2 separate regions of the Homo sapiens genome follow, and region 1 is linked to region 2. The links come from fine-mapping of genetic effects on gene expression. A gene starts in region 2. The other region holds a variant in brackets. All regions are shown on one strand. Distances are from middle to middle.

Region 1 (4,372 bases), 49 kb after region 2:
GGCGGCTGGCCGGGCGGGGGGCTGACCCCCCCACCTCCCTCGCGGACGGGGCAGCTGGCCGGGCAGAGGGGCTCCTCACTTCCCAGTAGGGGCGGCCGGGCAGAGGCGCCCCTCACCTCCCGGACGGGGCGGCTGGCCGGGCAGGGGGGCTGACCCCCCCCACCTCCCTCCCGGACGGGGCGGCTGGCCGGGCAGGGGGGCTGACCCCCCCCACCTCCCTCCCGGACGGGGCGGCTGGCCGGGCGGGGGGCTGACCCCCCCACCTCCCTCGCGGACGGGGCGGCTGGCCGGGCAGAGGGGCTCCTCACTTCCCAGTAGGGGTGGCCGGGCAGAGGCGCCCCTCACCTCCCGGATGGGGCGGCTGGCCGGGCAGGGGGGCTGACCCCCCCCACCTCCCTCCCGGACGGGGCGGCTGGCCGGGCGGGGGGCCGACACCCCCACCTCCCTCCCGGACGGGGCGGCTGGCCGGGCGGGGGGCCGACCCCCCCACCTCCCTCCCGGACGGGGCGGCTGGCCGGGCAGAGGGGCTCCTCTCTTCCCAGTAGGGGCGGCCGGGCAGAGGCGCCCCTCACCTCCCAGACGGGGCGGCTGGCCGGGCGGAGGGCTGACCCCCCCACCTCCCTCCCGGACGGGGCGGCTGGCCGGGCAGAGGGGCTCCTCACTTCCCAGTAGGGGCGGCCGGGCAGAGGCGCCCCTCACCTCCCGGACCGGGCGGCTGGCCGGGCGGGGGGCTGACCCCCCCACCTCCCTCCCGGATGGCACGGCTGGCCGGGCGGGGGGCTGACCCCCCACCTCCCTCCCGGATGGGGCGGCTGGCCGGGCGGGGGGCTGACCCCCCCTCACCTCCCTCCCGGACGGGGTGGCTGCCGGGCGGAGATGCTCCTCACTTCCCAGATGGGGTGGCTGCTGGGCGGAGAGGCTCCTCACTTCTCAGACGGGGCAGCTGCCGGGCGGAGGGGCTCCTCACTTCTCAGACGGGGTGGTTGCCAGGCAGAGGGTCTCCTCACTTCTCAGACGGGGCGGCCGGGCAGAGACGCTCCTCACCTCCCAGACGGGGTCTCGGCCGGGCAGAAGCGCTCCTCACATCCCAGATGGGGCGGTGGGGCAGAGGTGCTCCCCACATCTCAGACGATGGGCGGCCGGGCAGAGACGCTCCTCACTTCCTAGATGTGATGGCGGCTGGGAAGAGGCGCTCCTCACTTCCTAGATGGGATGGCGGCCGGGCGGAGACGCTCCTCACTTCCCAGACTGGGCGGCCGGGCAGAGGGGCTCCTCACATCCCAGACGATGGGCGGCCAGGCAGAGACACTCCTCACTTCCCAGACGGGGTGGCGGCCGGGCAGAGGCTGCAATCTCGGCACTTTGGGAGGCCAAGGCAGGCGGCTGGGAGGTGGAGGTTGTAGTGAGCCGAGATCACGCCACTGCACTCCAGCCTGGGCACCATTGAGCACTGAGTGAACGAGACTCCGTCTGCAATCCCGGCACCTCGGGAGGCCGAGGTTGGCGGATCACTCGCGGTTAGGGGCTGGAGACCCGCCCGGCCAACACAGCGAAACCCCGTCTCCACCAAAACCAGTCAGGCGTGGCGGCGCGTGCCTGCAATCGCAGGCACTCGGCAGGCTGAGGCAGGAGAATCAGGCAGGGAGGTTGCAGTGAGCCGAGATGGCAGCAGTACAGTCCAGCTTCGGCTCCGCATGAGAGGGAGACCGTGGGGAGAGGGAGACGGAGACGGAGACGAGGGAGAGGGAGGGGGAGGGGGACGGGGACGATCTGACTTATTTTTTAAGGATTTTTTTTGTGTTGAGAATCCACTGAGGAGAACAGGCAAGGGTCGATGCAGAGAGGCTGTTTAGGAGGCTTTTGCAAAAATCCAGGCGACACTCTTTCTTTTTCTTTCTTTTTTTTTTTTTGAGACAGAATCTTGCTGTTGCCAGGCTGGAGTGCAATGGCACGATCTCAGCTCACTGCAACCTCTGCCTTCCGGGTTCAAGCGATTCTCCTGCCTCAGCCTCCCGAGTAGCTGGGATTACAGGTGTGCGTCA[C/T]CATGCCCAGTTAATTTTTTGTATTTTTAGTAGAGATGGGGTTTCACCATGTTGGTCAGGGTGGTCTCGATCTTCTGACCTCGTGATCCACCCACTTGGCCTCCCAAAATGCTGGGATTACAAGCGTAAGCCACCATGCCTGGCTGATATTCTTTCTTTCTATGCACCCAAGTCTATCCCTAGCTTCTTTCCACCACCTCCCTGTGCACTCAGCTGAGCTTCTTTCTCTTTCTACTGTTGACTTCTTCCTTTTCTCTCTCACACAACATTCACTTTCTCTCTTAATCTTCTCACACAGCCCACATTTCAACCCCTCACTGAGCCAAGCACTGTAGGTCAAGCATAGAGGGTTCTGCTCCCTAATTTCCTGAGTTTATAATTCTTATTTTTGAATTTAAAAAAATGTTTTTAAAAACTAGGCCAGGTGCAGTAGCTCATGCCTGTAATCCCAGCACTTTGGGAGGCCGAGGTGGGCAGATCACTTGAGGCCACGAGTTCAAGACCAGCCTGGAACATATAGTGAGATCTTGTCTCTACAAAAAATACAAAAATTAGCCCAGTGTGGTGGCACACACCTGTAGTCCCAGATACTCGGGAGGCTGACGTGGGAGGACTGATTGAGCCTGGGAGGTGGAGGTGGCAGTGAGCTGTGATCGCACTACTGCACTCCAGCCTGGGCGACAGAGTGAGATTGTGTCTCAAAATAAATAAATAAATAAAAATAGAGATGGGGTCTTGCTACATTGCCCAGGCTGGTCTCAAACTCTGGGCCTCAAGCCATCTTCCTGCTTCGGCCTCCCAAAGTGCTTGAAGTACAGGTGTGAGCTGCCACGCCCAGCCTATATCTCTTTGTTCTTCTTTTCCCTTAATACTTATCCTTTCTCAATCCATTTCCTCCCTTCCACTTTACCATTTCCACACTTTATTTTATTTTCTTTATTTGTAAAGATGGGGTCTTGCTATGTTGCCCAGGCTGGTCTCGGACTCCTGGCCTCAAGTGATCCTCCTGCCTCTGCCGTATTTTCTTTTCTGTTTTTCCCCATCTTTTCCTCTCTCCACTCCATCAGTGTCCACTTGGACTCCTGCACTCCTGTCTCTGATCTTTCCTGCTGCCTAAACTTTGTTTTCTAGAAGGGCCCTGGCCAGGCGTGGTGGCTCATGCCTGTAATCCCAGCACTTTGGGAGGCGGAGGCAGGTGGATCACCAGAGGTCAGGAGTCCGAGACCAGCCTGGCCAACATAGCGAAACCCGTCTCTACTAAAAATACAAAAAATTAGCTGGGCTTGGTGGTGTGCACCTGTAATCCCAACACTCGGGAGGCTGAGGCAGGAGAATTGTTTGAACCTGGGAGGCGGAGGTTGCAGTGAGCCGAGATAGCGCCACTGCACTCCAGCCTGGGCAACAGAGTGAGACTCCATCTCAATAAAAATAAATAAATAAATACGTACATAAATAAATAAGGCCTTAAGAAGCCCTGGCCCCACCTTCACTGAAAGCCGACCAGCCCTCTCTGCAACCCCTCAGCATTTAGCACCGTGTACCGCGCCCAGCAGCTTCAGTAAATGCTGGTTGGCTTTTTATTTTTCCTTTCTTTCCCTTTCCTTTTCCATCTTGCTCGCTTCCTTATATTTTCTTCACCTTTCACTTCTTTTTCTCCCATTTCTCCTCTTCTGTTTCTCATAGGTCTCCTTGGTTTTTTTTTTGTTGTTGTTGTTTGTTTGTTTTTTGAGACAGTCTCGCTCTGTCGCCCAGGCTGGAGTGCGGTGACGCGATCTCAGCTCACTGCAACCTCCGCCTCCCGGGTTTAAGCGATTCTCCTGCCTCAGCCTCCCGAGTAGCTGGGATTACAGATGCCCGCCACCACGCCCGGCTAATTTTTGTACTTTTAGTAGAGACGGGATTTCGCCATGTTGGCCAAGCTGGTCTAGAACCCCTGACCTCAGGTGATCCGCCCGCCTCGGTCTCCCAAAGTGCTGGGATTACAGGCGTGAGCCACCGCGCCAGCCCGTGTCCTTGATTTCTCTTTCATCATTTTCCCACTTCCTTTCCTTTCCCTTCCCTCTTCCTTCCCGGTTGTTTCCTTTCTTCTCCTTCCTCCCGCCCATTCCCGCCATTCCAGCCTCTTCGCCGCCGCTCAGGATCCCACCTTCGGCAGGAGTGAGCGCGCGCCAGGCAAGACTCCCTTGGACTCGGGCGTGAGCACGCACGCGAGCGCGCTCCCCACGAGTGGCAGCCGCTTACATTTTCTTTTTCGCTACCAGTTGCGTCACCTAGCGAGGTCCACGCTGATTGGCTGTCTGAGCTGGGGGCCGAGGTGGTGTTGGGTGAGA
Region 2 (4,372 bases):
CTCAGGGTCTCCTTCTCACAGGCCCCTTCCAGCCTGTCCCCCGCCCTGGCCCTGCCCTCAAGCCTCGGCCTACTTCGGCTCCTCGCCCCTTCCCCACCCCTTCTCTTTCTCGGGCCTGTCTACCCTCACTCCCCCAGCATCTGAATCAATGCTTTTGAAAGACTGCCCCCTGCCGGAGACAAGGGGCGAGGACACGCTGGGCCCGGGTGCTCCAGTAGGCGCCAGGGCGCGCGGGAAAGGGAGCCTGCTCTCTGGGGCTCAGAACTCAAGAGAGAAAGAAAAGACAGAGAACAGGCGGTCCCAGTGCACATTCAGCTAAGAACATTATCTCCTCACTCCATCACCCCTAAAATTAGCTCCAACACAGAGCACTGTGCCTTGGCACAGAACAGAGCCACTTAAACAGAAGCACAGTCCCCAATTCCTCAACACTGGAACAACCGCCCAGCCCCAGGCCTGCTGGAGGGGACCTGGCCCTTTCTCAGGATGGAGATTCTCCAAGCGTGGTAGGGTGAGGACGCTGAGGCTTAAAAAAGAGATGCAAACCCGCATTCTTCGCGGCTGGTCGGTTATCCCAGCTCTCTCCTCTCTGAGCCATCCCAGCAAATCACACCACCGCTTGGCAATTGTCTACAAGTTAACAGTTTTCAAAGGATTTTCACTCTTTACCTCCTGTGATCCCTTTTGCCCACTTGCCCAGCCTTGGGCTCCAGCCAGGGAAAAGAAGGAGGAAGCTGCTCCGACAGCGTGCCCCGACATCCTTGACACTATGCAAGACTGGAGGTGCGCACGGTAGCAGTAACCATCCCAAACTCGCAAGCATTATTCTGTGAGTTTGAAGCCATTTTACATTTGTTAGACTTTCAACATCCTTCATCTAGCCTCCTCCTCTCATCTTCTCTCCTCTAAAGTGGGCTATTTTTCTTTAATTCCCAAATTCCAATAGCAGATGTAAAAGTTAGGGCTAACGCATCAGATCACGAACACAAGACTGATGTGTCCAACAGCAGAAAAAGCTAGTCCAGAAGTTTAAGCACATGGTCCACTTGACTAACCACCACGTGGGACCCTCAGGGCCCCTGGTCCCCAGGCAATGGCAGGGACACCAAGGCCAGGTCTACCCTCAAATCCTTCCCAATGGCACGACAGACCGCTGGGGGACCAAGACCTACAATCTAAGAAAATCAGATTGGAGCTGGCTAGCCTGGTGGAGGGTGGCTAGCCTAGGTCTGCAAAGGGCACAGGAAAGATGGGAAGGAGAAAGAACCCCAAATCCCCCATGTCGGCAGCAAAGGAGAGACCCTTACTGGTACCACCGATGGTGTTTCCATGCCAAAGGCGAGGGGTTGGCGGGGTTCTAAATTGAAACTTCTATATAGACTCGAAGAGGCAGTGCACAAGAGGGTGGGAAAGCTGACGATCTTCCAGAACGACACTTTGAGAGGCAGGAGGGAAGTAAGGCTTGGGTGGCTGGAAAAAAAAAATCCAATCCAGCTAACAAGTCTTTATGTAGCATCTCCTAGTTCCTAGCACTAGGATGCAACAGACCTGGAGTCTGACCGGGAATGCGAGTAATGACTGTATAACAGAGAAGAGAGACGAGGGGCTTTTAAAAAGTTACTCGGAAATTTTTTTGTTTTTTTTTTTTTTTAAGGCAAAGTGTGAGAGCTGTGGCCAGGGAGCTGCTGCACGGAGGGGCATGAGCTGAGAAGGGCCTGGCCTGGGACGGGGAGGACAAGCAGTCTCTGCTAAGGAAGGTATTTCCCGCGGCCGAGCAACTGGGAAGAAGGAGACCCCAATGACCCAGCACTAAGATCGCCGGAGCGAAAGGAAACAGAGGTGAGGAGGACCCAGGCGAGGTGCCTGGGTGGAGGGCAAGGCTTCCATGTTGGCCAAAGTCGTGGAACGCTTGGACCTGGGGAACCGCAAGGCCCAGCTCGTTCCGAGGGGAACCCAAAGGCGCGCTGGGGAGAACTCCGGGAAGCGCGGGGCCCGGCCACCCTAGGACGCTAGGGTCGGGGGCCCCCAGGCGGCCCAGGGCAGGGCTTGGCAGGGGCCCGGGGGCGACCGTTAGGAGCGCGGGGGTGGAAGGCAGCGCGCCGGCCCGGGAGGACGGCGTGCCCTTCAGGGAGGGGCGCCAGGTGCGAGGGGGGCGAGCGGTCGCCCCCTAAGCCGGGCGCCGGCCTCCCGGGGCCTCCCCGAGGCTGGCCGGCTCTGGGGGAGGGTCCCGGCGGCGGGGATGGGCCGGAGCGGGCGGGAGAGCGGGAGGACGCACCGGGCTGCGGCGGCCTCGGGGAGGAGACGGGGGAGGGTCCTCGCTGGCGGCCCGCGCGCTGGCTCCGGCGCTTCTCTAGCTCGCGGGCTCGGCGCGGCCGCCGCGGCGTCGGGGGCGGGCCTGCCCCGGGGCTGGGCTGCGGGCCGGGGGCCGCGGGGCCACTGGGCGCTTACCGCGGGCGGCGCGAGGGTCCGGTCCCGGGGCGTGGGCGGCGCGCGGCGGGCGGGGGCCGGGGACGGCGACGGCGGCTAGCAGCGGGGGAGGGGGCGCTGGCGCTCCCGCGGCGGCCGCTCCTCTGTGTTTGTGTTTGTAGCAAGATGGCTGCCCGCCTCGCACCACGTGACGCGGACGCGGGGCCGCGGGGCCGCCCCTTCCACCGCCGCCGCCGCCGCCGCCGCCGCCGCCGCCGCCGCCGCCGCCGCCGCCGCCGCCGCCGCCGCCGCCGCCTCCCTCCGCGGCTCCGGCCCGCGCCACCTCTCCTCGTGCGCTGCTCGCGTGCCGCGCGCGCCACTGCCCGGACGCCCGTCGCCCCCGACAGCCCCCCCCCTCCCCGCCCCGACACGTGACCTGGGCGCCCGGCTGGTCACGTGACGGGGGCCCCCAGCTGCGGGCGGGATCGGCCCCAGAGCGGCCTCCTCTCCCCCACCTCCCCCGGCCCCGCGACGCGCGACCTCTGGGACCGAGGCCGCGGCCTCCCTGGCGGTCCGGTTTCCTCCAGGAAGCCCGCCTGGATGACAGGAGACAATAAAATCCAGAACCCTTCATCAGGCGTCCTGGGATGTGTGAAATAAGTGGCTCAGGCAAATAAGTTGACTCTCAGGAGCCTCTTTATTTTTTTAATTATTTATTTAATTATTGAGACAGAGTGTTGCTCTGTCCCCCAGGTTGCAGTCCAGTGGCGCGATCTCGGCTCACTGCAGCCTCCGCCTCCCGGATTCAAGTGATTCTCATGCCTTGGCCTCCCGAGTAGCTGAGATTACAAGCACACACCACCACGTTTGGCTTATTTTTGTTGGCCAGGCTGGTCTAGAACTCCTGACCACTCAAGTGATCCGCCTGTCTCGCCCTCCCAAAGTGCTGGGATTACAGGCGTGAGCCACCGCGCCCGGCCCCTATTTATTTATTTTTTTGAAGCAGGGTCTCACTCTGTTGCCCCAGCTGCAGTGTACTAGCCCGATCTCGGCTTACGGCAGCCTCCAACTCCCGTGTCTCAAGCGATCCTCCCATCTCAGCCTCCTGAATTGTTGGGACTATAGGTGTGCACCATCACACCCAGATAACTTTTTTATTCTCTGTAAAGACTGGGCGGGTGGCGTGTCTCATAACATTGCCCAGGCTGGTCTTGAACTCCTGGTCTCAAGGGATCCTCCTGCCACAGCCTCTTGAGTAGCTGGGACTACAGCTGTGTGCCACCACACCCAACTAATTTTTTTAATTTATTGTATTTGTTGTTTGTTTGTTTTCCAAGACAGAGTCTTGCTCTGTCGCCCAGGCTGGAGTGCAGTGGCGCGATCACGGTTAACTGCATCCTGCGCCTCCTGGGCTCAAGCAATCCTCCTGCCTCAAGCACCCTGAGTAGCTAGGACTACCAGGGCACACCACCACGCCCAGCTTTTTTTTTTTTTTTTTTTTTTTTTTTGTAGAGACAGGGTTTCCCCCATGTTGCCCAGGCTGGTCTTGAACTCCTGGACCCAAATGATCCTCCTTCCAAAGTGCCGGGAACTCCTGGACCCAAATGGATCCTCCTTCCAAGGTGCCGGGATGACAGGCATGAGCCGCCACGCCTGGCCTCTCAAAAGCCTCCGTTTCTCTTACAGAAGGATGTTAACACTGCTCTGCACCCAACCCCCGACCCCCAACTCCACACTCTTCCTTGAGTGCTGTAAGAATTAAAATAAGTGAATGTGAAAGGCTTTGACAAGAGAGAAACTGCTATGCAAATGTGAGGTGACTGAAACCCCCTTTGTTTAAAAAAAGGACTTTTCAAGAATGACTCGCTGAACTTTTTCAAGGCTCAAAAGTTCCGCGTATGCTTTCACCTTTTTCTTTGGAAGTTACTCCAGAATGTATACCTTACTTCCCAGAAGCCTAAAAGAG

The links. PIP is the estimated chance that this variant, and not a neighbour inherited with it, causes the effect. A credible set is the group of variants that fine-mapping cannot tell apart.
Region 1: its variant is the best candidate, but not a certain one, in a credible set for the expression of GIGYF1 in whole blood (TOPMed, PIP 0.84).

What each region holds. Positions count from the first base shown.
Region 1 is chr7:100,741,135-100,745,506 of GRCh38, forward strand. All of the region lies in intron 7 of ZAN (zonadhesin), which reads left to right. Among named protein-coding and RNA genes, the nearest start is that of ZAN, 9.7 kb to the left of the region's middle. RefSeq lists an enhancer at 4,142-4,191. The variant C/T (reference allele first, on the strand shown) is at 2,043.
Region 2 is chr7:100,691,662-100,696,033 of GRCh38, forward strand. It overlaps GIGYF1 (GRB10 interacting GYF protein 1), which reads right to left and starts at 2,589. Exons shown (of 27, transcript NM_001375765.1): 1 at 2,449-2,589. RefSeq lists silencers at 86-255, 2,018-2,137, 2,308-2,407, 2,848-3,007, a cis regulatory region at 1,663-3,156 and an enhancer at 3,695-4,372.